2 separate regions of the Homo sapiens genome follow, and region 1 is reported to be linked to region 2. The links are microRNA targets in miRTarBase. Many come from high-throughput screens and were not tested one by one. Region 2 holds a microRNA gene; the other region holds the end of a gene's coding sequence.

The links. The annotated mature microRNA hsa-miR-1245a reads AAGUGAUCUAAAGGCCUACAU and lies in region 2 at 3,808-3,828, opposite strand. An mRNA with a match to its seed (bases 2 to 7 or 8) in the 3' UTR can be bound and repressed. Matches are read on the target gene's strand: a 7mer-m8 pairs with bases 2 to 8, a 7mer-A1 pairs with bases 2 to 7 and ends in A, and an 8mer does both.
Region 1: the mRNA of PAICS is a reported target of hsa-miR-1245a. Seed matches in the 3' UTR shown: 7mer-m8 at 6,674-6,680.

The regions. Positions count from the first base shown.
Region 1 is chr4:56,455,008-56,467,426 of GRCh38, reverse strand. PAICS (phosphoribosylaminoimidazole carboxylase and phosphoribosylaminoimidazolesuccinocarboxamide synthase) reads right to left here. Exons shown (of 9, transcript NM_001079524.2): 9 at 2,849-8,055. The coding sequence ends at 7,889. LOC124900706 (a long non-coding RNA gene) reads left to right here. Exons shown (of 2, transcript XR_007058126.1): 1 at 1-335; 2 at 4,434-6,117. Among named protein-coding and RNA genes, the nearest start is that of SRP72, 6.4 kb to the left of the region's middle. RefSeq lists an enhancer at 7,230-8,429.
Region 2 is chr2:188,969,545-188,981,963 of GRCh38, reverse strand. It overlaps MIR1245A (microRNA 1245a), which reads right to left and starts at 3,872; the gene lies at 3,803-3,872. It overlaps COL3A1 (collagen type III alpha 1 chain), which reads right to left and starts at 7,591. Exons shown (of 51, transcript NM_000090.4): 1 at 7,396-7,591. The coding sequence starts at 7,474. It overlaps MIR1245B (microRNA 1245b), which reads left to right and starts at 3,803; the gene lies at 3,803-3,871. It overlaps LOC105373791 (a long non-coding RNA gene), which reads left to right. Exons shown (of 3, transcript XR_007087614.1): 2 at 11,485-11,617.

The sequences.
Region 1 (12,419 bases), not on the chromosome of region 2:
CTGGAGAAAAGAGGCGTCGGACTCCTGGACGGGGTTGGGAAACGGTCACCAGTTTCGGCTCAAAGCAGCCTGTTTCCAGGAGACCGCCATGGTCGAGGCAGCGTCCTGGTCCCACGGTGCGGGGCCGGACGATCATTTATGGGATATAAATAAAAGGACTATGAGGTGGTAAATAAAAGACTACCAACTAGAAGCCATAGGGAGTCATTTGAAGGAGAAATAGGCACGGCTCATCTGTGGTTGAGGGAAAGGGATCTTGAAAGATGATTAGGAGAACTTGGGTTCTGGGGAAAGTGCGGGAAGACATTCTGGCAGAGAAGCAAACGTGAGGAAAGGTAAGAAGGCAAGAATCTCCCATTACAAAGGGTTTGGTGAAACCCTTTGCCTGTCCTTTTCGCTCCCTTCGGGAGCAGTCGGCAATAAGCTGGAAGGGTAATGGGGTGAAAATGCCCGTGGTCAGTTCCCTGGCTCTGCGACTCACTAGATGTCTGACAATAAACAAGTTACTTAGCTTCTGGGAGTCTGTTTTCCCGATTGTGAAATGGGGATACTATATTTGTTCTAGAGATATAAAATATTAGGGTTTGCTTGCGACCGTTAATATCAAGATGTGTTCAGATGTACGAAGGGAATGGATATCTGTTGGGTACACTTGATGTGAGTGATTTTTTTTTTTTTTTGAGACGGGGATCTTGCCGTGTTGCCCAAGCTGGTCTGGAACTCCTGGGCTCAAGCAATCCTCCCACCACAGCCTCCCCAAGTGCTGGGATTACAGGCATGAGCCACCACACCAAGACGATGTGAGTGATTCACTTGATGTGAATGTTGTATTTCATTGAATGGCCTGCTCTTCAGACTCATATCTCGTCATGACCTTTACAACTTCTACTACTTCCTGTGTCCCTCAGGAACCTAGCTTTTTTTTTTTTTTTTTTTTTTTTTTTTTGAGACGTAGTCTAGCTCTGTGACCCAGGATGAACCTCACTGCAATCTCCACCTCCTGGGTTAAAGCGATTCTTTTGCCTCAGCCTCCCAAGTAGCATGAGCCACCACGCCCGGTTAATTTTTGAATTTTTAGTAGAGATGGGGTTTCACTGTGTTGGCCAAGCTGGTCTCAAACTCCTGACCTCAAGTGATCCGCCCTCTCTCAGCCTCCCAAAGTACAGGGATTACAGGCGTAAGCCACCGTGCCCGGCCTTGCTAACTACTTTTTGTCTTTCAGTCTTTCTGGTTATACGTTGAAAGTTACTTTGAGGAAACATTTGATCTTGCAGACTGGGCAGCCTTCTGGTTGCATCCTCTTAGAACAGGGGTCCCCAACCCTTGTACTGGTCTGCAGCCTGTTAGGAACCGGGCGGCACAGCAGTAGGTGATCGGTGGGCCAGTGAGCAGTACCGCCTGAGCTCCTGTCAGATCAGCTGTGATATTAGCTTCTCACAGCTCAAACCCTATTGTGAACTGGGAATGTGAAGGATCTAGGTTGCTCACTCCTTAAGAGAATCTAATGGGAAATGTAATGAGCTTGAATCATACTGAAACCAGCTGTCCAACTCCTGTGGAAAGATTGTCTTCCCTGAAACCGGTCCCTGGTGCCAAAAAGGTTGGGAGACTCCCTATAGGACTCCACTTCTGAGCACTGATAATTAAGGGTTATCTCACTCTGTATGGACTATAGTTCTGAGGCCAAGGAACCATATTTACCTTGCTCACTGCAGTATCCCTAGGATCTAGCATACTGCCTGGCACATAGTTGGCATTTTTTGTTTCACATTCCTTGCCTAATCTTGAGTTCCTTGAGGGCAGAAACTGCCCAGCTCCTGATATGGCATATGGTGCCCTGCCATATTTTTGTCTGGTCCTTCCAGTATATACAATGCAAAGAGCATGAAAGGTGGCTTGAACTCTAGGTGCTGGAGGGTGTAATTCTTGTGAATTAGTAAAAATCATGAGAAGAGCTTTAGACTTTTACTGACTAGAATTGTCACAGGTTTCAAGCCAGTTATGTTTAGATTTCAGGGGGTGGGGGCTCCAGATGACATGGTATACCCAAAATGTTGTGTGAGAAAATTGGGTATACCCAAAATTTTGTTGTATTTTGTTATTCTGAGAAAATGTAGATTCCACTGTATTCTCCAAAGGTGTTTATATCCACCATCCCCTCCCAAAAGTTAAGAGCCACTGTCCTAGTAGTACTTTTTAGAACATTGACTTTATATAAGAATTGGCAATTTTCGTTTCTATATCATTCTAATCCTATATACTTTGTAGCTTTTAGAAATGCTCAGAATTCTGCTGCTGTGGACTTGTTTCTATTTCTTATGTCATTTTAATGGAGTTTTGTGGCAAACAGCCTATAAATATGGGGCTTAACCTGCCATTTTTGAAACAGGAATCTTCCAAACCATAGTGGTGTTTTGTTTTTTTTTTTTTAAATAACAAATTTACATCTCACATTGTGAAGGATGGAAAGATTGTCTGGTGAGGGGCCACTCTGATTCATAGATGGCATCTTCTGTTTTCACATGGTGGGAAAAAAACCAGACTGATCTCTTAAAGCATGTATCTGATGCCACTTTCCTACCCTCACGATAAAATCCGAACTCCAAAGAAGAGCAGTAAGAGCTTTTGTGATCTGGCCTCTGCTTGCCACCTCCCCAACTCACATAGGTCTCTATACTTATTTCCTAGCCCCCTTGCATGCTATTCACCTCTAACTTCCATGTAGTTATGTGTCCCCCTACCTCCTGGAATTTGCATTTTTATTCATCTGACAAGTGTTTGTCTTGTATATGCCAGTGCCGTGTATTACACCAGTTGCTGTGATACAGCTGACAACAAAGAAGACAGCCCAGTGTAATACATTTATTTTCTAGTTGGGAGAGATGGGTAATAAATAAACATGTACTATGTTTGGTGGTAATAAGTTTGCTGAAGAAAATTATGGAAAGGTAAGAGAGATTGAGTATAGACTGTGGAGAATTAGTCTTTTTCATTCACAGTATACAATTGTTTTCTAGAGATCAGAGTCCTTCCTACTTTTGTGTATTCACAATACCCTATTGTTAATTCCATATTAAGACTATATACGGTGTTTTGAAATTGTCTGCCTCTGGAGACTTCCAAGATTCATTGAGAGCAGAAGGTTAATTTTGTTCATCTTTGCATTCCCAGGGTCTTATATATACATAATAGGCTGTATTTGTTCTCTAAAAAATACAGAACCAATAGGATATGTACAGATTATGAGAAATTGGCTCTGCAAAATGGAGGTGAAGTCCCACAGTCTGCCTTCTGCAGGCTGAAGGCCCAGGAAAGCCAGTGTAGTTCCAAACCCGAGGGCTTGAGAATCAGGGGAGGCAATAACGTTAAGTCCTAGTCTGAAGGCCTGAGGACCAGGAGCACCAACATCTGGGGGCACGAAATGGATGTCCCAGCAGTTCACCCTTCTTCCCCTTTTTTGTTCTATTCAGGCCCTCAATGGATTAGATGACGCTCACCCACATGGGTGAAGGCAGTCTTCTTTACTCAAGTCTACTGATTCAAGTGCTAGTCTCTTCCAGAAACACCATCACAGATGTACCTAGAAATGTTGTTTGACCAGCTATCAAGGCATCCCGTAGCCTAGTCAAGTTGACAGAATTAGCCATCTCATCAGTATCCACAATGTATTTTTATATTAATGGATTTAGCCTGAGAAGCTTCCATGTACAGTATCTTTTTTTTTTTTTTTTTGGCGACAGATTTTCGCTCTTGTTGCCCAGGCTGGAGTGCAATGGTTCGATCTCAGCTCACCACAACCTCTGCCTTCCAGGTTCAAGCGATTCTCCTGCCTCAGCCTCCCGAGTAGTTGGAATTATAGGCATGCACCACCATGCCTGGCTAATTTTGTATTTTTAGTAAAGAGGGGGTTTCTCCATGTCAGTCAGGCTGGTCTTGAACTCCCGACCTCAGGTGATCTGCCCACCTCACCCTCCCAAAGTGCTGGGATTACAGGCGTGAGCCACTGCACCCAGCCTCATGTACAGTATCTTATGGTATCTTGTCAACTCAGAGGCAAGCAGAAGAAATAAGACGTGAGCCACCGCGCCCAGCCTCATGTACAGTATCTTATGGTATCTTATCAACTCAGAGGCAAGCAGAAGAAATATTTAGCTCCATTTTATAACTTGATTTCCATTCCACTATTTTCATTGTACTGCAATGTGAGATTAACAATTCCACCCCAAGTATTTGAGGTGTGGGAAGCTGGATGTAAAAACACCATTAAAAACAACTCTTTTCAATGGCTTTCTAAGGTTGGCTGGGCTGAAATGGCAGGTTGTGGATGCTCCGTGGCACATCACACTGCCCCTTTCTTCATATTAGAAATTAAATCAGCCGATGGCAATATTGAATTCCAGGTAATTTTCTTTCTTTCTTTTTTTTTGAAACAGAGTTTTGCTCTTGTTGCCCAGGCTGGAGTACAATGGCGCAACCTCGGCTCACCACAACCTCCGCTTCCCAGGTTCAAGCGATTCTCCTGCCTCAGCCTCCTGAGTCGCTGGGATTACAGGAATGTGCCACCATGCCCGGCTAGTTTTGTATTTTTATTAGAGACTGGGTTTCTCCATGTTGGTCAGGCTGGTCTCGAACTCCTGATCTCAGGTGATCCACCTGCCTCGGCCACCCAAAGTGCTGGGATTACAGGCATGAGCTACCATGCCCAGAGAATTCCAGGTAATTCTCATGGTGAATGAATTCCATTCATACTGTTGTTCTTCAGTCTGCCAAATGGATATTACATAACACATTTGTGTGCCATGATGGGCCTTACATATATTGACTCATGTAATTCTCACAACTTTATGAGGTGGTATTAGTCGCATTTTCATTTCATGAAATTGAGGCACAAAAAAATTAGACATGTTGAAGATCATACATCATCCCTCACCTGGGCTACAATAGCCTCTTAACTAATCTCTGCTTCTCCTCTTGTCCACACAACAGCCAGAGAACCTTTAAATATGTTAAGTATGTCAAGCCTCTGCTCAAACTGAGTTTTTCCTGTCACACTTCAGTGTGGCCTATAGGCCCTAAGTGATGTAGCCTTTGCTTATATTGTCTTCCACTCTCATCCTTGTTCACAGAGCTCTAGCAATTCTCATGTTTGGAGGTCCTCAAGGCAAAACTCAGCTTTATTTCCCATTCCCTTAGTATGGAAAGCTATTTCCCTATCTGTGTGTCTTGCTTTTACATCATTGCTCTGCTCTCCTCAAAAACCTTCCCCTCTTATCCCCATCACCGTCCTCATTTTGATTCTTCATATACATTTATCCTTTCCTGATTTTATACTGTTTACCTTTTTATGGTTTGTTTTCCCCTCTAAAACATAAGTTCCATCTGGACAAGGGCTTTGCTCAGTCCTATTTTCCTAGGCCCTAGAATCAAACCAGTATTGGGTGAATGGATACTGAATGAAGCTTTACCTAAGTGCTTTGTCTTTTACTTAGTTTCAGTGGTTAAATCTCAGAAAGCTTAACAGCAATTCTAAGCATGTCTTTATCATAAAAGGTTAAAAACTGTATTATTGGGATATTTTTTCTCTTTTTATGTTTACCTACAAGCCCGTAGAAAGTATAAATACTCAAAAGATAGCAGACCAGGTAGGCTTAAGTTACTTTTACAAAACAGTAGAAATACCTTCAAATATTTAGCACTGATGAACTTACTACTGAGGACATGTGGACTCTACTAAGAAACTAATGATGAAATTCATAATTGGGTGTGGTAGCACATGCACCCAGCTACTCGAGAGGCTGCAGCTTGAGTCCAGGAGTTCAAGGCTGCAGGGAGCCATAATCATGCCACTGCACTCCAGCCTGGGAGACAGTGAGAACTTGGCTCTTAAAAAAAAAAAGGAAAAAAAATTGATAACGACAATTTGTAATGGTCAGTCCTATCCACCAGTCTAAATGAAAGTTTAAAAATTTTCATATACTGCACAGAAGTAGATGGAGTCTTAATGCTAGGTAAGGGTAAACAAGCTGAAATAGCAGTCAGTGACTTCAGAGACCATGAAACCAAAGTTAATCTTCTAAGTCCTTTTAATTGTTCTTATAAACTAGCATAAGATATAAACTTAAGTAGTACACATGAGTTTTATAATTTACTAATCTCTGACAGATAGCTAAGCATAGCACATCAGAGCATAACACAGTGTGAGGGAAATAAAGTGTACAATGACATCTTCTATTCTGGACCTAATAATTCAATAGAGAAAGAACTACTTGTAGTCACTGTGGTTACAGAAGGTTTCATGGACAGCGAACATAAAGCTCTACTAGCTAACAAATAGGTCTTAATGATAAAAACGTGGGCCTTCAGAGAACTAAAGGTACCAATGTGTGGCAGTCCAAAATTACGAGGAAAATGAGTTCCCTTCATGGGTCACATCAGCAATTTTTTTTTTCCCCTTTTGAGACAGAGTCTTGCTCTGCTGCCCAGGTTGGAGTGCAGTGGCATGATCTAGGCTCACTGCAACCTCCGCCTCCCGGGTTCAAGCAATTCTCATGCCTCAGCCTCCCGAGTAGCTGGGATTACAGGTGCCTGTCATCACGGCTGGCTACTTTTTGTATTTTTAGTAGAGACAGGGTTTCACCATGTTGGCCAGGCTGGTCTCAAACTCCTGACCTCAAGTGATCTGCTTGCTTCAGCCTCCCGAAGTGCTGTGATCGTAGGTGTGAGCCACTGTGCCCAGCTACCTCATCAATTCTTAATCTATAAACCATGGATAGGCTTCGGGAGAACCCAAGAACCAATGAAATCTGTTGGTAAGTTTTATGTGTGCGGTTTTCTACAGAGAGGGTCAACAGCATGTATATTTTCAAAGAAGTCTGTGGTGCAAAAGAGAGTTTATTGTTAGAAGTCCTTGGGCAATCAACTTGGAAAAGGGTGGATTGAGAATGGGGGCTGTCTAGATCAGGATAATGTTGAATTTGACCCTCACTTGAGGCTTTTGTACAGAGGATGAGAAGACGGTAAATTCAAGGGTTAATCAGAAATTAACACCAACATGACTTGGTGATGAGTGAGATGTGAAACGTGAGAAAAACATCAATGATGAAATCAAGCTTCTGACTTGCAACAGTGAGTATACCAAGAGCTACAGGCTTGGAAGATGAATAAAGTTGGGAGCATTCTGTTTTTTCATGAGTGCCCATGGGACAGACAGGGAGAAATGGACAGTTGAAAGTACAAGTCTAGACAGGCACAGTGGCTCATGTCTGTAACCCTAGCACTTTGGGAGGCTGAGATAGGAGAATTACTAGGGTTCAGGAGTTTGAGACGAACCTGGGTGACATAGTGAGAGCTCATCTCTACAAAAAATAAAATTAGCTCGGCATGGTGCTGCAAGATTATAGTCCCTGTTAGTCGAGAGGCTGAGGTGGGAGAACTGCTTGAGCCCAGGAGGGAAAGCAGCAGTGAACTGAGATCACGCCACTGCACTCCAGCCTGGGCGACAGTGAGACCCTGTCTCAAAAAAAAAAAAAAAAATGCAAGTCTGGAGAAATATAGCTGGGAGTCAGTAATGCCAGTTTTAGCTGAGGGAGTTAAGATCATTTAATCAGTGTTAAGGAAGAAACTCAATAGTAGTGACCACCAATACTTAAGGAAAAAGGATAAAGTAAGAGGAATGATAAAGGCTGGCTGAAATATCTTGGTGTCTAGCCTAAGAAAGGAGGGGTTAGATGCTCATGTTTATTAATATGGATCTAGAGAAGCATTTATTCACTAATACATTTTATTTGTGTTCTCTAATTTAAAATTACCTTTTCATCTTGCTTGATTTTCCTTCAGCTAAATTAGAAATTTGTAGTTTTTCCCCTAAAAAATTCAATGGCATTCTTTCTTATAAATTACATTCTCTGATTTTCTTGTCAGCCTGCTTCAAGGAAATCCATGTGTTCAAAATGCTTGCTCGCAGTTTGCTCCATACCAAATGGTTGCTTAACCCAAATATCTGAGCAGCAAATTGAGCTGATCCTTCTGGAGAAAGTACGGTTGAACAGCCAAGACCTATTGGTTCAGCAAGGAAAAGACAGAAAATTGAGCTCAATTAGTAATGAAAATACAACCTTACAAAAAATTTTATACTCAGAGCAGTCCTGCCACAGAAAATAAAAAGCTACTGCATTATTCTAATCTAAAGTAGAATCTGTACAACTGTCTTTAATACCGGAGTGGTAAAGTGATTACAAGAGGAAAAGCAGTCAGTATTACCTGCCATGAAGAGATATTTTATATATATCATCTATCACCCTTCTTATAGAACTCACTTACAAAGAAACTTATCTTTTTGAAACTTCTGTTCACATACACTATCCCTTTCAATCCCTGGCGAAGAACAACTGAAGCAAAATAAGGGTCAAGGTAAGAGTACAAAAGTACCTGTTCTTAGACAAACTTGAGCTATGTTGTTTTGACAGTTTTCTAGCTAATCTTTCTATCTGCATTTGAACTATTTTAATATTTTTGAGCAGTAAAAGTCAAATCCGTAGAATAATTTTAGGAAATGTCAAGTTATAAATAAATATTAATAAGATCCAAGACAGCAGAATAAAAAAGTAACATCCTAGGGGCCACATGTCTGCTCAGGCAGAGTGTCTTGAGGTGGTACTATTATGTCTAGTGTTTGCTAGAATCAGGGGTACTATTATGTCTAGTGTTTGCTATAGTTCCAAAAGCTCGATTTTCCCGATATTCTTGGAATTCATCAGGCTCTTTGACTCCCATTATCCACAAGAACAGAGTCAAATACAAATCACAAGGCCAATTTACTAATTTGTATTAATACGTTATTTTATGGAGCTCCACCCCTTAATATGTGGTATTGGTCAAGTTACTTCACGTTAATTTATTCTCCTCTTCTGTGAGAAGGGAATTTTAACTAGTAGCTACCTGATGTGACACTTCAATGAGTTAATAACATAGATAAAGTGCTTAGAGCATTGCCTGGTACACAGTATGTGCTCCAAGAATGTCAACCACTATTGTTAGCACGCTAGGTAGAGTGCTCCACTCTAATATTTGAAATAACCTGTGCCTCCTGCCCAGGACTCCCTTTCTGGTAAAAGAATAGCTTAAATTGCAGAAAAAAAAAAAAAAGTTATCTAGTGAGCATGACATCAGAGATGAGAAATATGGGCGGTCTTCAGGATTTTACACAGGTTACTGTAAAACTACTCCTCAAAAGATTATCCCCAATTCTAGTGATCATTATGTACAAGTCTTCCAGATTATTTGTCACTCCTGAAACAACACTACTATAAAAACTGCCAATTTTTTGCTTATCATGCTCCCCTTTTGTAAGCTCCATGGGTATCTATACAATTCCTCTGGCATAAATTTGGTTACAGCTTTATTTGTAGCCGCTGATTTTTAGCTTGAGACATTTGTATAATCACATCTTGTTAAAGATAGCTTAGGCACAAAATTTAATTCTCAGAGCCTATAAAAACAGTAAAGGAAATAGGCATGAACACACAAGGCCAGATAACAGCAGTAACATTTTGGCAACTGAAAGGCAAACACAGTGGTAGCTAAGTTAGCAGACCAAGAAAACTTAATCAAAATTAGCTGGCATGGTGGTGCATGCCTGTGATTTCAGCTACTTGGGAGGCTGAGGCAGGAGAATCGCTTGAACCTGGGAGGCGGAGGTTGCGCCATTGCATTCTAGCCTGGGCAACAGGAGCGAAACTCCATTTAAAAAAAAAAAAAAAAAAAAACTTAATTCTAAACTGAAAGCAGGGAAAGATGAGAAGCAACATGACTGACATTACAGAACTCCCCCAAAGGGTGACTGACTAAATTAGTGGCACCAGATACCTTTGGAAGGGAATAGGGACTAAGAAGAAGATGACTGACTCGAAGTCTAAGAAGAAGCTAGGTCCTCAAATCTCCTTCCCCACTCCATCTACCTGAGTAACTGCCTCTTTAAAGCACTGTAGCAATTTTTTTCTTTTTAAACATTATTTTTTTCTGAGACACGGTCTCGCTCTGTCATCCGGAGTGCAGTGGTGCAATCACGGCTCACTGCTGCCTCAACTTCCCAGGCTCCAGTGATCATCCCACCTTGGCTTCCCAAGTAGCTGGGACCACAGGCGTGTGCCACCATGCCTAGCTAATTTTTGTATTTATGGTAGAGATGGGGTTTCGCCAGGTTGCCTAGGCTGAGCTCAGGCAATCCACCAATCTCTGCCTCCCAAAGTGTTGGGATTATAGGCATGAGCCACCAAGCCAGGCCTTTAATTTTTCTGAAGGTAAAACAGACTTCAGTCTTGGCGTCTTTGAACTAGGGGACGCCAGGCACAGACAACTTTTGTTCTCTGAGTAATTCTGGTCAACACTTAAGAAAATACCTAGACACTAATGTGAGGGGTTGTTTGAAGAACAATCCCTACCAGATACACCCCACAGTGAAGCCCAATTTTGACACGGACCACCCACTTGAAGTTTCCAATTGTTTTTTATAGTATTCCACTCTTAAAAGCGCAAACAGCCAAGGATTACCAGACAGCTGAAGAAAGTAACTATATGCAACAGACTATAATCATCTCCAGAGAACAAAAAAGAGCTTTTGGAAATTTAAAAACATACAAACACAAACAACAACAACAACAAAAACCCAGAAAACAAAAACCAAAAGAAATATAAAAACATTGTGTAAAAAAAAAAAAAAAAACCCCAGAGGCAGTGGTTCCTACCCAATCCCAACACTTTGGGAGGCTGAGGTGGGAAGATTGCTTGAGTCCAGGAGTTCAGGACAAGCCTGGACAACATACGGAGTGCCCATCTCTACAAAAAGTAAAAAAATTAACCAGGTGTGATGGTGTGGGCCTGTAGTCATAGCTACTTGGGAGTTTGAGGTGGGCGGATCACATGAGCCCGGGGAGTTCAAGGGTCCAGTGAGATATGATCATGCCACTGTGCTCCCACCTGGGCAACAGAGCAAGACCCTGTGTCAAAACAAACAAAAAACACCTGTATCCAAAATGAAGGCCGGGCACAGTGGCTGACGCCCATAACCTCAGCACTTTGGGAGGCCAGGGCAGGCAGATCACCTGAGGTCAAGAGTTCGAGACCAGCCTGGCCAACATGGTGAAACCACATCTCCACTAAAAATACAAAAATTAGCCAGGCGTGGTGGTGCATACCTATAATCCCAGGTACTCAGGAGGTTGAGGCACGAGAACCGCTTGAACCTGGGAGGCGGAGGCTGCAGTAAGCTGAGATTGCGCCATTGCACTCCAGCCTGGGCAAGAGAGCCCGACTCCGTCTCAAGAAAAAAAAGAAAAACTCAATAGAAGGGTTGGAATGTAAAATTTAGGAAATATTCCAGAAAGTATACCAACAAGACAAACAAGTAGAATAGAAATCAAGGGAAGCCCAAATTTATTCAAATTCAAAAATGAGAAGAGAGAATATGGAGGGGTATGAAAATTAAATAATTCAAGGAAAATGGGGACTAAGAAATCAGAATTTCAGATTAAAAGAGCTCACCGAAAGTCCATAATGAAAACAGACTCAGCACATCACATCTGTGTAAAATTTAAGAACAATGAAAACAGACAAAAGATCCTGAAAGATTCCAGAGAGAAACAAAATTCATAAGAAACCTAGAATCAGACTGGTGGAAAAGCAATGGAGTCCTCAACTGTGGATGCTAGGAGACAGTGGAGTAATAATGCTCCCAAAATTCCAAAGCAAAATGATTTTCAGCATAGGATTCTATTTCTAAACTATCAAGTATAGGGCTTCAATATACACATTTTAGATACACAAGGTATCAAAATTTACCTTTTGTATTCTTTTGCCCCCAAGTTCAAGAATGTACTCCAACAAAATAAAAATAAACCAAGTAAGGGGAAAACATGGGAGATCCAAGCCTAGAGAAAGGCAAAATGAGTCTCCAAAATTATGGTAAAGGGGGATCCTAAGACAACAGCAGTACAGGATGCCTAGAGAGAAGCCAGTCCACTGGACCAGGTTGGAGGGCTCAAAGACTTAATATACTTGACACATATCAAGACTGGATATATACAGATATGAGAAAAGTTAGGGATTTTAGTAATAAAGCAAATCTCCTACTGAAACAATATTGACCCTCATAAACTGCAGAATATCAGATCATATCTTGGACTATGATGAACGAACCACAACACTGTTACGTGATCCAGTTCCATCAGCCAAAAGGGGACTTCCTTATGTTATTATCTTTTATCCCCAATTTTTTATTTTGAGACCGAGTCTCACTCTGTTGCCCAGTTTGGAATCCATTGGTACAATCTTGACTCACCTCTGCCTCCCAGGTTCAAGCGATTCTCCTACCTCAGCCTCTGAGTAGCTGGGATTACAGATGCTCACCACCATGCCTAGGTAAT
Region 2 (12,419 bases):
CCTGAGAAGTCAGTTCCTGTAAAAACTTGTGGCTGAAAATTAGCCCTTTCTCTGTTTTTCTACCTTAGTTACCTTTGCTGAAAAAAATAGTTTTGTATAGCTTCCTTTATTATTCCATGCATGACAAAATATAGTTAGCAATATATTCTACTGAAAGTTAAAGCTCTTAGATTGATGTTTCATGGACCTTCATTTAATACCTAGTAATATGTGCGAAAATCATGGCAAAGTCAAGGAAAAGAATGTTTTGTTTCTAGAGGAATAAAAATGCTCTAGTTAGCCATTTGCAACATTTAGAAATAGAATAGAAAATGGGATTTAGAAGTAAGTCATCTCATATTATTCTCTTCATTTCTTAGATATCTGCATTCAGAGTAGCTTCGGTTAAAAAAATAAGTTAATTTTTTCCAAAAATATTAAATAAAAGGCAAATAATTTCATTCTACTATTGAAAAGTAATGGACTTTCCAATTATTTCCATTATTTTAGTTGTTTAAACTAAATCTCTCTGTTCCAATTTATAATTAATTTTAAATTCCATCTCCCATGTCATTTGGTGTTTCTGTTCCTTACTACGAAGTACAATTCTGAAAGAAATTTACTTGTGATCACACAAGCAATGTATTAAACTCAATCATCTCCTTGCTGGGATCTATAATATAAAACATATTGAAGCTAACACATGTCTTAAACCACTCTTAGCTGCTTCTTTCCTAGTTTTCTATTTTGGAATTTTAGAGAAAAATAAAGCCAAATAACATAATTTTATATTTTTAGATGTGCATAAAGCTTACTATTTTGTGATTTTTTTGTTTCCATTCTTCATGTTAAATCATGCTGACTTGAAGAAATCATATTGTTTGGACAAAAAATGAATGTTATGTTTGTCTTAATACTATTTTTGGAGCAATAATATTATTCCCTAAAGCACCTAATTAAATTAATTAATTTGGCTTGAATGAAAAGTGAATGTTTTTTCCTTTTCTCTTCTTACTAAATCCTTATCTGGGAAAAGATGTTGTATAATCTGAAAATCTAAGAATCACAGATATGATATATAAATTATCATAATTATTTTCATTACTTTAGAAAGCTGAATATTTTGTACATGTGGGTATTTGGCATTCATATAGTTTCCAATTGAAATAATGTTTGGTTTGCCTTTTAAATGATATTGTTTGGAAAACATAAATTTTAATAAAATATTTTTTCTGCTGCTTATGTATTTATCAGAGTATCTTAAAATATGTTAGATTACTTAACAAAAAGGACTCTGAAGAAAGTATCTGTAGACATTCTAGGTGAATAATTTTAATTTAAAAGCACTGTTTTGCATAGAAAATAAGATTTTATTTATTCTTGCTACCTCCAGGAAAAAAAGTTGATAAATTATCATTTGTAGATATTTTCTTGTTTCATATTTTATAGATATATGCTTTTTCAATCTCCTTAGAAATGTCCTTTAAGTTGATTAATCTTTTAGAATTCAATTAATCTTTTAGAATTGTCTAAAAGATTAATCTTTTAGAATTGTCTAAAAGATTAATCTTTTAGAATTGTCTAAAAGATTAATCTTTTAGAATTGTCTAAAAGATTAATCTTTTAGAATTCAATCTCCTTAGAAATGTCCTTTAAGTTGATTAATATTTTATCCTGTTAAAAATAAAAATAATTAGATAATTAGAAAATTTTAAGTATCATATATCTAACCACCAGCAATTGCATATATAATAAAATCTTCTTAGTGTCAAATTATAAAAACATTGAAGAGAATATATTCTACTTGTCTTATTACATTTGGCAAACAACTTTAAATTGTATAGTCTTATAAATAAAATTTTACATTTCACCATCCTTATCACTAAGTTACTAAGTACTTTAATTTCTTCCTTAGAGTAATTTTATTTGCCAGCGTTAGTAAAACTAGTGCTATAGTACCTCCTATCTTGTAGGGACTGCTCTGAGTAGTTTGAATATCTATTTTGCTTCATACTCCCAAAGGCCTTATGAGCTTACAGCTGTCATAATCCTAATTTTACAGATGAGGAATCTTAACTGCAGAAACATTAAGTAATTTTCCCAAGGTTACACAGTCAGGGTGAAAAAGAAGATCTGAGTGTAAGAAGGCTTTCTCTAAATTTGATACTCTTAATTACTGCATTCTATTTTCTTTCTGCTATTTCAAAACTGAGTACGATTAAAGAAGCCAACTCCAAAGCTCTGTCCCATATGATTTTTTATCCCTGCAAGGTTAAAATCTGAATCTAGATAGGTATATTTTGAAGGACAACAGTTCTTTGCAAAATATTTTTCTATCTGGCCTCAAAACAGGAAGATGCCATCTGGAGTTAAATTCTCCTGTTTATTTTCTCTTGACCTTATGAAGAAGGGTTATATCTCTAAAGCTACCCTGATGACATCCAGACCACCAACAGAATAAATGTGTGACTCAGAAACCCTGCATACATTTTGCTATATACAAAAAAGTAGGGTTCTAACAACAATAGTACCAGACAGAAAAGACTTCTGCATCCAATGCAAAAATATGTTTAAGATGTCTCATTAACACACTGTTTTTCAGAAAATATAGTTACTAAATGATTCATGTTAATATACATCTAAGTTCATCAGAAGTTTTCACTGAATGAAACTGGAACGTTGTGAACATGCTATGCAACTCCAAAGAGTATTTCTGTGATTTTAATTTACTTGAGAAATGCAGTCTCTGTCATCCTCCACACAAAATACTATAGAAAAACAGTTTCAGAAAAATATATGCCATTTTACTGAAGCAGTACTTTCTTAATACTAGAATTCAAGGGAAGTTTAACTTTTAATAATTTCTGGATCTTTTCTCTTTGATGTTTACATCTTTTGGGCATTTTGACTCGTCCTCTTTCAACGTTTCATTTTGTTCATTAAGACTACATTTTAAACAGCAGTGCTTGACCTCAGTCATGGAAAAAAACAAGGGTTTTATTAGTTAATCTGAAAGGAATCCACTTCTGCTGTGTTTTCATTAGACACAGACTGAAACTCTGGTGGTTAATGTAACTCCCCCAACTGCAGTTCACAAATGATTTATGTAAGAATAGCTATCTCATTTTTTCCGTTGTCATCTTGACATGAAACAGGCAAAGTTTCCCCTTTGAAAAGTCTGGAGAGTTTTTTTTTACACTATATGATCTTTTTTTTTTTTTTTTTTTTGAGTGTGGAAACAATGGGATTGAGCTTTTATCTTAGGGAAAACTTTTACAAGAAACAGTTCACTGAGAGGGTTCCAGAAAGTTATTGTAGACCTGGAAACTTTACAACTGTTCCTCATGTCCAGCAAAAGCAATAACATCTTTCATCTTTAAAGCTTTAATTCTTTAAGCAATCTACTTTAATCACTTCAAGGCGGTGATATCATTAGATGTTACAAAATTAAAGAGCTGGGCTACATAATTTTTGGAACTCTGCACCAAAGAAGCCATTCACAATGGAAACTGTGGAGTTTCGGTAGATGGCACTCTTTTCTCTGAGTGACAACTCAAGGTCCAGCATGTGACCGTAGATGTAGAACAGGGGCTTTCCTGAGGAGCTGTCCTTTAGCCTCAACTATAATCCTGGTAAACTCACAGCCAATCATTCTTGATTTTTAAAAAGAAGCCTGTAGATAAGACATCAATCCAGGAATCTGAAGTAGTTAAGAGGCATTTAATCACAGTCTTTCCTTCTTTCCCAGAATTGTTCCAGTGGATTTGCTTTCTTTTCTTGTAATGCTGAAATGTTTAATTCCAGAATTTAATAAAAATACCTTTTTATATGTAGGCCTTTAGATCACTTAAAGAGTATTCAACATCAGATGATCTAAAGGCCTATACATAAATAGGTAGTTTTGAAAATCCAAATTTTTCAAGGCTCTGTTATTACCTGAGCATTTTTCTTTCCCTAGAAAAAAAGCTCAGGTAAGTAAATACAAGGTATCATGGATGAAAAACACAAAGTGTTATAATACTTTATTTACTCACACAGAACTGGTGATAATTTCTTTTAAAATGATAAGATCCTGAGCTTCTGGGGTTTAAAAAAATTAACGTACTACTCTCTATAAAATTGAATATTAAACAGAAAAATACCTATTCTTTTTTCACCTTTAGAAATGCATTATTAGTTCATGTACTTTCTAGGACGATATATAATTTTTTTAGTATCTCCTTTCAATGACAAATAGTTACAAAATTAAGAAAATTCAAATATCTGATTTTAATGTGTATTCTATAATTATCTAAGACTGAACAGAATATTGGTCCTAGCCTTGACTCCGTCATTTTCTAGTTTTGTAATCTCAAATAAAGCACTGATCCATGTTAGGTGACTGACACTGAGATATGTGAGCAACTATGCATTCTCTCCCTTTAAAAGTGCAATTGTTCCTAAATGTATGTAACCTTTTCCTGTTAGTTCAGTGTGTTTAATTGTAGGGACAAACACAAACCAGAAAACTTGAATGTTACCTGAGCAAGTTACAAATTCCCTCTTAAAGCATAATGAAAAAAATATACTCTCATGACGTCTAATAAGAAACTGATTCTCTGAGTCCATTTACAGTTTTAAAATTCTAAAACAACTAGAGGCCTACAGTTTATTTTACTGGAATTATCACTGTAGCAAAATATAGAAACTCAAACATTAGTACACATTTAATTAAAATAAAGTTTCTGTTTCTGCCCTAATGGAGCAGTATTACTTAGTAACAGCTGTCTATAATCTATCTAACAATTAAGCAGTGAATAAAATACTTATGTCAAATAAGGACTACATCAGAGACATGAAAAATGTATTTAAACAATAGTCATATGTAGAATTTTTAAGTGGCCGTAACATTTAAGCTAATTTCCAAAAAGACTCTGAATATTGTTACCATTGTGTTTTCGTGTCAGTATATGTGTTTGCAATATTTATCCGTAACATACTAATTTCCTTAGGAGAGCAGTGTTAACATTTAAAATTCACGCATATGAATTTTTTAAAGCTCATTATAAACTACCAAAGCCAGCTACATAACATTAATATTGGCATTCGTTATGTAAATGGTAACCTGGCTTGTCAGCCACTAGGTGACGCATCTTTGTACTTAAAACTTGGCATGTTTATAATCTACAGGAAATATAAAACAGACTATGTTTCTCCATTGGTGGATTAAAACACATGAATTAAATACAATGTTCACAAATTTGTAAGACGACCAAAATTCTTTTTGAGGACTTGTTTGTATCCAGAAAATGCCTGTGAGTGAACTAGAAGTGAGTGTTCATTAGAGCTGTGCCGTCTCTGAAGTTATGAGGGCATATATAAGAAACCCCACCCCAGAACTTTATGACAGCTCTCAGTGTGCTGTATATTCAGATACCTCCTGTAACTTTTCCAAAGCTTATCTAATAGCAGAATTTCCTTGTAAAACCCACAGGGAACATAAGATGTACTGTCTTAAGTCACTTCAACTTTACTTTTACTCATGACAAAAAAAATAGGCTGAACAGTTCTCTTTCAACTCTTTTTGAGCTTAAGAACACACAAACACATATCAGCAAAATTTTATACTTATTGATTATTTTTTGCATCTAAAGAGAAAGAGGGAAATAAACAGAACTTAATGTGATGTCAAGGTACTGTAAGTGGCAAACACCCCCCCACTAAAGTTGGATTGGGAAGAAAAATAGCCACAGTGCTTATAAAAAGCTTGCAACCACGAGGCAACTACAAATATGTTGCAATTTTTTGAGCTAAAACCCCTAAGTTTGTAGTCTTTTCAATAAATGGTTGGTGGGGGATAGTAGTCATTTGGTATCCTAAAAAAGGACTGTGAGTTGTAGCATCTCCTGGGAAGAGCAGGATAGGGAGGAAAAGGGGAGAGGAATGAGAAAGGAAGAAGGATTGAGAGTTCAGGGGAAAGAAAGGGTGAGGAGGCAAGGAGAGAGAGAACTAAAAAAAAGAAATGGAGGCATAAGGAGGCCACATGGGGAGTAGGGAGGGAGTAACAGGCAGGGAAGACAGAGGAGGAGAGAGGAGTAGATATGGGCTTGCCTAGGAAGGGGTGGGGTGATGAGTGAAGAGAAGTCTAAAGGAGCCAAAAGGGGTGGAGAGAGATAAGGAGGAGGGCAAAGCGAAGGAGAGGAGGGGTAAGGAGGAGAGGAAATTAAGGGAACAAGGAAAATGGGTGTTTCTTTTCTTTTGTGTCCATGGGCTGAATATAACTGAAGACATTTCATTGTATATCTACCCCTCCCCTCATACACACATTTACATGTATTAGCTATGAGGACAACAAATACATTTGATATTACAAACAAAAACCAAATTTTCATGCAGTGTCCTTTGCAAAATCTATATGTTTAAATGTAACCATGTTTAGTTATGTGCAATAAAAATTGTCTAATAATTTCTCCTAGCTATCTTTACATTTAGCACTTAAATATTTATTTCTATGGAAGTTTGTATTCCAATTTGTTCAGCATTTTCATGACTATGGTAAATAAAAGAATATTTTCACATAAATAATGAGACAAATGTGTTTTTAGGGGAAATTAGAATATGAAAAACATTACATGCAATTATTAGAAAATATAGCAAAACAGCTTTCTGAAGTCAAACAGTACTAGTATCTTTACCTTGTTTGCAGCAAAGTCAAACCTCCTGTTGAAACATTTTAAAAAATATTTTCTTCATTAATGCGAATGTGGTTAAAACGTAGAATATGTGGAAAATATTAGTCCCTTAATATCAAGCTACTAGAAAAGATGAATTAATCAATCATTCTTGAAACAAAATAAAAACAGGAATAATAAAATATTTTAGCAGTTTGATCCCTTTGAAGAATGTTTATAGGTATCTTGTAGCCATTTTACAGAAATATATTCAATGATTCTGATAATGCGTAGAATCTTCCTTTAGACTGTTCTTAATCCATGATATTTGAAAGGCATTCTTATTCAGAAAACAATGCTCAATATTCTAACCTTACAAAGAATCCAGCAGACAAAGAGGAACATAAAATTATTGCAAGAGACCAATAACTTCCAGACTGCCTGGGGAAGTATTCCAAGATGTTAACAATCCAGGAGGGAAAAATTTTAAAGCCATTTTTAAAAGTTTCCAGTGCCTTTAACATGAAAACAAGTTAGTACAAGAACATCTTATCTTAACCACAGAACTCTTAAAAACACACATAACGCGATTATTTTTCAAGTAATGTAAAAAGCACAGCCATGGTCAGTTCAACGTTTCACAATCTGGAGCTTATAGAGGAAATTATCTTGAATCAGGCAACTGATTTTCCCCTTTACACCCCTCTTTGTGAGGAGAAGAAAGACAAAAATCCCATAAAGTTTCTTGAAATCAGTACCTACTCACCTTCCTGTTGTGCCAAAATAATAGTGGGATGAAGCAGAGCGAGAAGTAGCCAGCTCCCCTTTTGCACAAAGCTCATCATGTCTAAATATCAGACATGAGACTCTTTGTGCAAAAAGGAGAAAAGAAAAGCAGTTCAAAGTAGCACCATCAAGTTGTTCCCTGCCCTTCAGCACCGGGCCCGTCATAAAACTCAGCCACTGAGATTCCTTTGCTTTGGCCTTAAATAGGAAAAAGTTTGGCTTCCCTCACTTTCCAGCCCCTTTCTGAAATATGAGAGCCGCACCCATCCCCTCAGCAGTAAAAGAAATGATAAATATTTCTTTTTCCCTTATAGAAGACACAACCCACAGTAAGAAAAAGAGCACATCTGGAGTTTGTATGCATCTGCTTATGTAAAAGTTTTTTTACATATTTCACTCTTACATATATGTTTGTATAACTTAGGAACGTATAGAAATGCTCTGCCTTGTTTTAATACATACAATGTAAATGCATACATTTTTATTTCCCCTTATGAAGTTAACAACTGCATAATTTTGAAAAACTGCTTGATGCCCATTTATCTAGTATGTCTAATTTACAGAACTGATCTTCCTAGAAGATTTTTATGTTGGGATTTTGCCAGAAGTAATCCTAACTCAATTTAAATAGGAGACTGTAAGAGACTCACGGAAAGAAATGCCACCGTATGCCCCTTCGACTCATCCACCCACCCTGGGTCCTAGAAGTTAAGTTTCAGGCAAATATCAAAAGACAAAGTATTTCAGCAATGTTTGAATGGCTTCCTAAAAGTTAGATACTTATCTATAGCTGTTTCCATTTCTCACAAATTTCTTTAGCAAGCCAGAGTGCTTTCTTGTGAGATTTCCAATTTTTATGCTGCCTGGGAAAGACAGAGCAGATTTTTCTAGAGAAAAATTCAGCCTTTTCATGACATAACTTTTTAGGAAACTGGAAGAGAAAGAGTTTATCACATAGAATAGCAAAAGAGTACCAGAGAAAGTGGTCATTTTTTCTGCATTACTCTAAAGATTAGTATAAATATTTCTAATTTAGACTTTTATGTGTATACTTTCCAGATCCTCATCCACAAAACTTTCCAATGTATTTCTGGATCTATCTAAGCAGTAATTTTTGTGTCATATTTGAAAGAGGGGCAAATACCATTTATAGGTCTTTGATAAATCTCTGCAGGAAAAATATGCTTGTCCACAGTATAAGGCTATATCTGGCAATGGAGATATCTCTTTACACCCTAATCATCAGTTCATAGTTAGTTCATCTATCTCTATAATCTACGGTGGACATTTCAATTCTAATCAAGGTCACTTGAACTAATTTTCTTCACCTTCACCTAAACATGTCCGTCTCTATGCCTGTGCACATAAAATTCTCCCCATTTCACACCAATTAATGGAAGTCACTTCCTTATGCCTCAATGCAAAACTTTCCTCCTTAAGTAAATTACCTCCTTTAAACTAATTTTCATCTTTCTCTTTCTTCTAATTTGTGTTACTAAATTTTCACTCAACTCATGTCATATGTATATTCCCAGGTGTACATGAATCCTGTAAGCATGGACAGTGGCAAACTTGCTTTCTTGTTTCTTGCATCTTTTTTTTTTTTTTTTTTGCGACGGGGTCGCCCTCTCTCGCCCAGGCTAGACTGCAGTGGCGCAATCTCGGCTCACGGCAAGCTCCGCCTCCCGGGTTCACGCCATTCTCCTGCCTCAGCCTCCCGAGTAGCTGGGACTACAGGCGCCCGCCACTACGCCTGGTTAATTTTTTGTATTTTTAGTAGAGACGGGGTTTCACCGTGTTAGTCAGGATGGTCTTGATGTCCTGACCTCGTGATCCGCCCGCCTCGGCCTCCCAAGCTTTCTTATATCTTCAGTCACAAGGACACAAACCAAGACATCTCAATGTAGATGACATCATTTGATGACAGGAAAGGAAAACTAGAACGAGACCAACCTCTTGTGTATCTTTATTTTAGATTGGAGAGTCACTGCTTGGGGGCGTGGGAGAAAAGTAACTGTTGAGAATGGTCATGAATATAAGCTTTTCTACTGGATCACAGTAGAGATGCTGGGGAAAGGCTGTTATATGCATCTTTCTGTCTTTCAGACATCTTTGTCCTGTACACAAAAAATATTTCCTGTGTTCAAACCAATTCAGAAACATAGTTTTTCTCATGATGTCTTTGTATCTACGTAGAATTCATATATCTATATTAGATTTCTCTCATTGTTTTAGGTGGTCTATAAAAGCTGAAATTTATTGAATTTCTTCATTAGATTTATTTTCCACTGTGAAAAATTAGAAATGTTATTTTTAAAATAATGCTTGTTATGCTTTATTTTAGGCATTATAAATAAAATTACTATTGTTCTAAAATTCTTAATTTGCTTAGCTATTCAAATAAAAGCCTTATACTCATGAGAAAAATTCATGATTGATGCACTCACTTAAGAAACATTAGCTGATGTTTTGCATATGGAAGGATTGTTGTATTTTAAGGTCTTCAGGAGAGACCTAGAGAATTCATTCTCCAGATATTCTGATTTACGATTCTTCACTACCTCGAATATGGAGGTTTTGCACTAGGATCCTTTGCATTCTGTGTCCCAGATCCTATTTTTCTACCTCCTGTCAAAGCATTTCCTAATACGGGGTCAAAGCATTTCTTAATACAGGGTCTGAACTAGGTGAAATGCATACACTTCTGAATCCTATTATGCCATCCAGGAACTGCTGTCCTCATTGTTATCTAGCCACACATTTCTTCCCATACTTCCCTGACTTCACTGATGTTAACCAGGACACATAAACATGTCATTTTGCTTTTTGGATTGCATTTGGAGCTTTAACACAAATCTAAATACCTGCACCAACTAAAGCACTGATTAATCTGGATCTCCTTTAACAAAGAGAGTGCCTGGAAAGATGAGGCAAAGCAAGGGTGTGGCAGATTATCAACCAAAAATTCAAATCTTTTCCAATTCAGTGGAAAGTGGAGCTTGAGAGAGATGCACAAGCACAGCTGTGATGAACTCAGTAGGCCAGTGAATGCCAGCAGCGCTTTCTACAACAGCACTAAGAAAATCAATTATCTCCACCATGGAAAACACATGGAACAGAAATGTTTCAATGTTTCTCTCTTTCCTCTCCCCTCCCCTTTGTTGTGCGGCTTTATGTGTGATTTTCTTTTTGAAGCCAGCAAGATGCTTTATTTTTAGGGACATTTTCTAGATTTCAAATCACTGTAAAGCCATTTAAAAACTACTTGTGATAATAGAACTACCAATACAACTGTAAAATACAATGCAGGTCTTCTTTATTATTCCCAGAGAGGTTGATCAGTTCACTCAGTTGATAAAGGTAAAACCACATTTGAAGAGTTGTGTTTCCTTTAAAAGAATTTGAACAAATACTAGTATGTGCATAGTAGAGCCAAAAATATGGTTGAAAAAGTCATGTTGTACTTGCAGGACTTAAACATATTTAACCATAGATATGTCCAGGATTGAGGCAAATTACACTGGCAGTGGGACATGATAGTCCAGTTTTTGAGTGATTATATGACCAAGTCTTCAAGACCCTTTTCTTTAATTTCCCCTTAGTCCCCAAGGTAGAGTTCATTGACCCCTTGTTTTTTTCTTATAGAACCATTTTAATAACCATTTCTTTTTAGCCTGGAAATTTCACTTTTGTACAAGATTTATATTTTCTTGACATTTAGTAAAATAAAGTTTTAGTAAAATTTAGTTAGGAAACACGAAGTATCTCAATTCCTATCTATTCTTTGTTATTAAACTTAAGGCTCTAAATTTTTATCTTTGTATTTTGCAACTGAAAAGTATCCCAAGAATGAACAGAAAGTTTAAAGAGGTTACATGACTCTCAAAATTACTCATTGGAATTGTAAATAACTAAAAATTTTCACTTTTGTACAAAATCCATATTTTCTTGACATTTAGTAAAGTAAAGTTCCAGTAAAATTTAGTTAGAAAAAACTGAGTATCTTGATTCCTACCTATTCTTTGCTATTAAAGCTAAGGCTCTGAATTTTTGTCTTTGTGTTTTGCAGCTGGGAAGTATCCCAAGATTGAACAGAAAGTTCAAAGAGGTTCCATGACCCTCAAAATAATTCATTGCAACTGGAACTGACTAGCACACTTTACAAATATTTTCACCATGCTTTCCACTAATCACTGATTGTGGTAAAGATATTTTTACGCAATTTAGAAGTGTGGTAAATACAAATCTGACACTTAATTTTGTATGTTTTCTAATGAGGCATTGTGAAAGGATGAAAAAAATGATAATGTTATGGAGTTAATGGCCAATTTACAAAAATTACCATTCTGATTTTTGTCTTGTCATTAATCTTTGAGTAATTTTCAGTATTGTATTTAAGTAAAAGTCCACTACTTTACACTTAATGAAGTACAATCTTAGGGCATGCAAAAGAGTTCACATATGTGTTTTTGTGTGTTTGCGTGTGTATATGTTTATATACCCCCCACATATATATGTATAATTAAATACGTATGTATATACTTTTAAAAGCTGACAAAAATTCAAGCAAGTAAAAATTTCTAGGAAACTTCCTTAATATACATGTAAGATAACTTGTATTTGTTATATCAATGTTGCTTCACATAAGTAGATAAGTAGCTATGAGTTTTTGCTTATGTAGACATAAACATGTCACCTGAAATCTTATTTAACATAACAGACTATTAATCATTGAAAGGGAAACTACTGGTAAGCCTCTACTTGAATTGTGAAACTTTCTGAAGTATTGTAAGCATGTTCTCTTGAACGAAGTTCTGATATACTTATATTTTAATTATAGCTTTATTTACTATCATAATTATTATTGTAATTATATTTGAAAATTCATAGGAAATTGAAATTCATCTCCTTACCTAATCTCATTCCTGAATAGTGTGATTACTTTATAAATTTACCACAGGGGTGACACAGAAACTGGGATGCCACATCGTGAAGCAGCTCAGG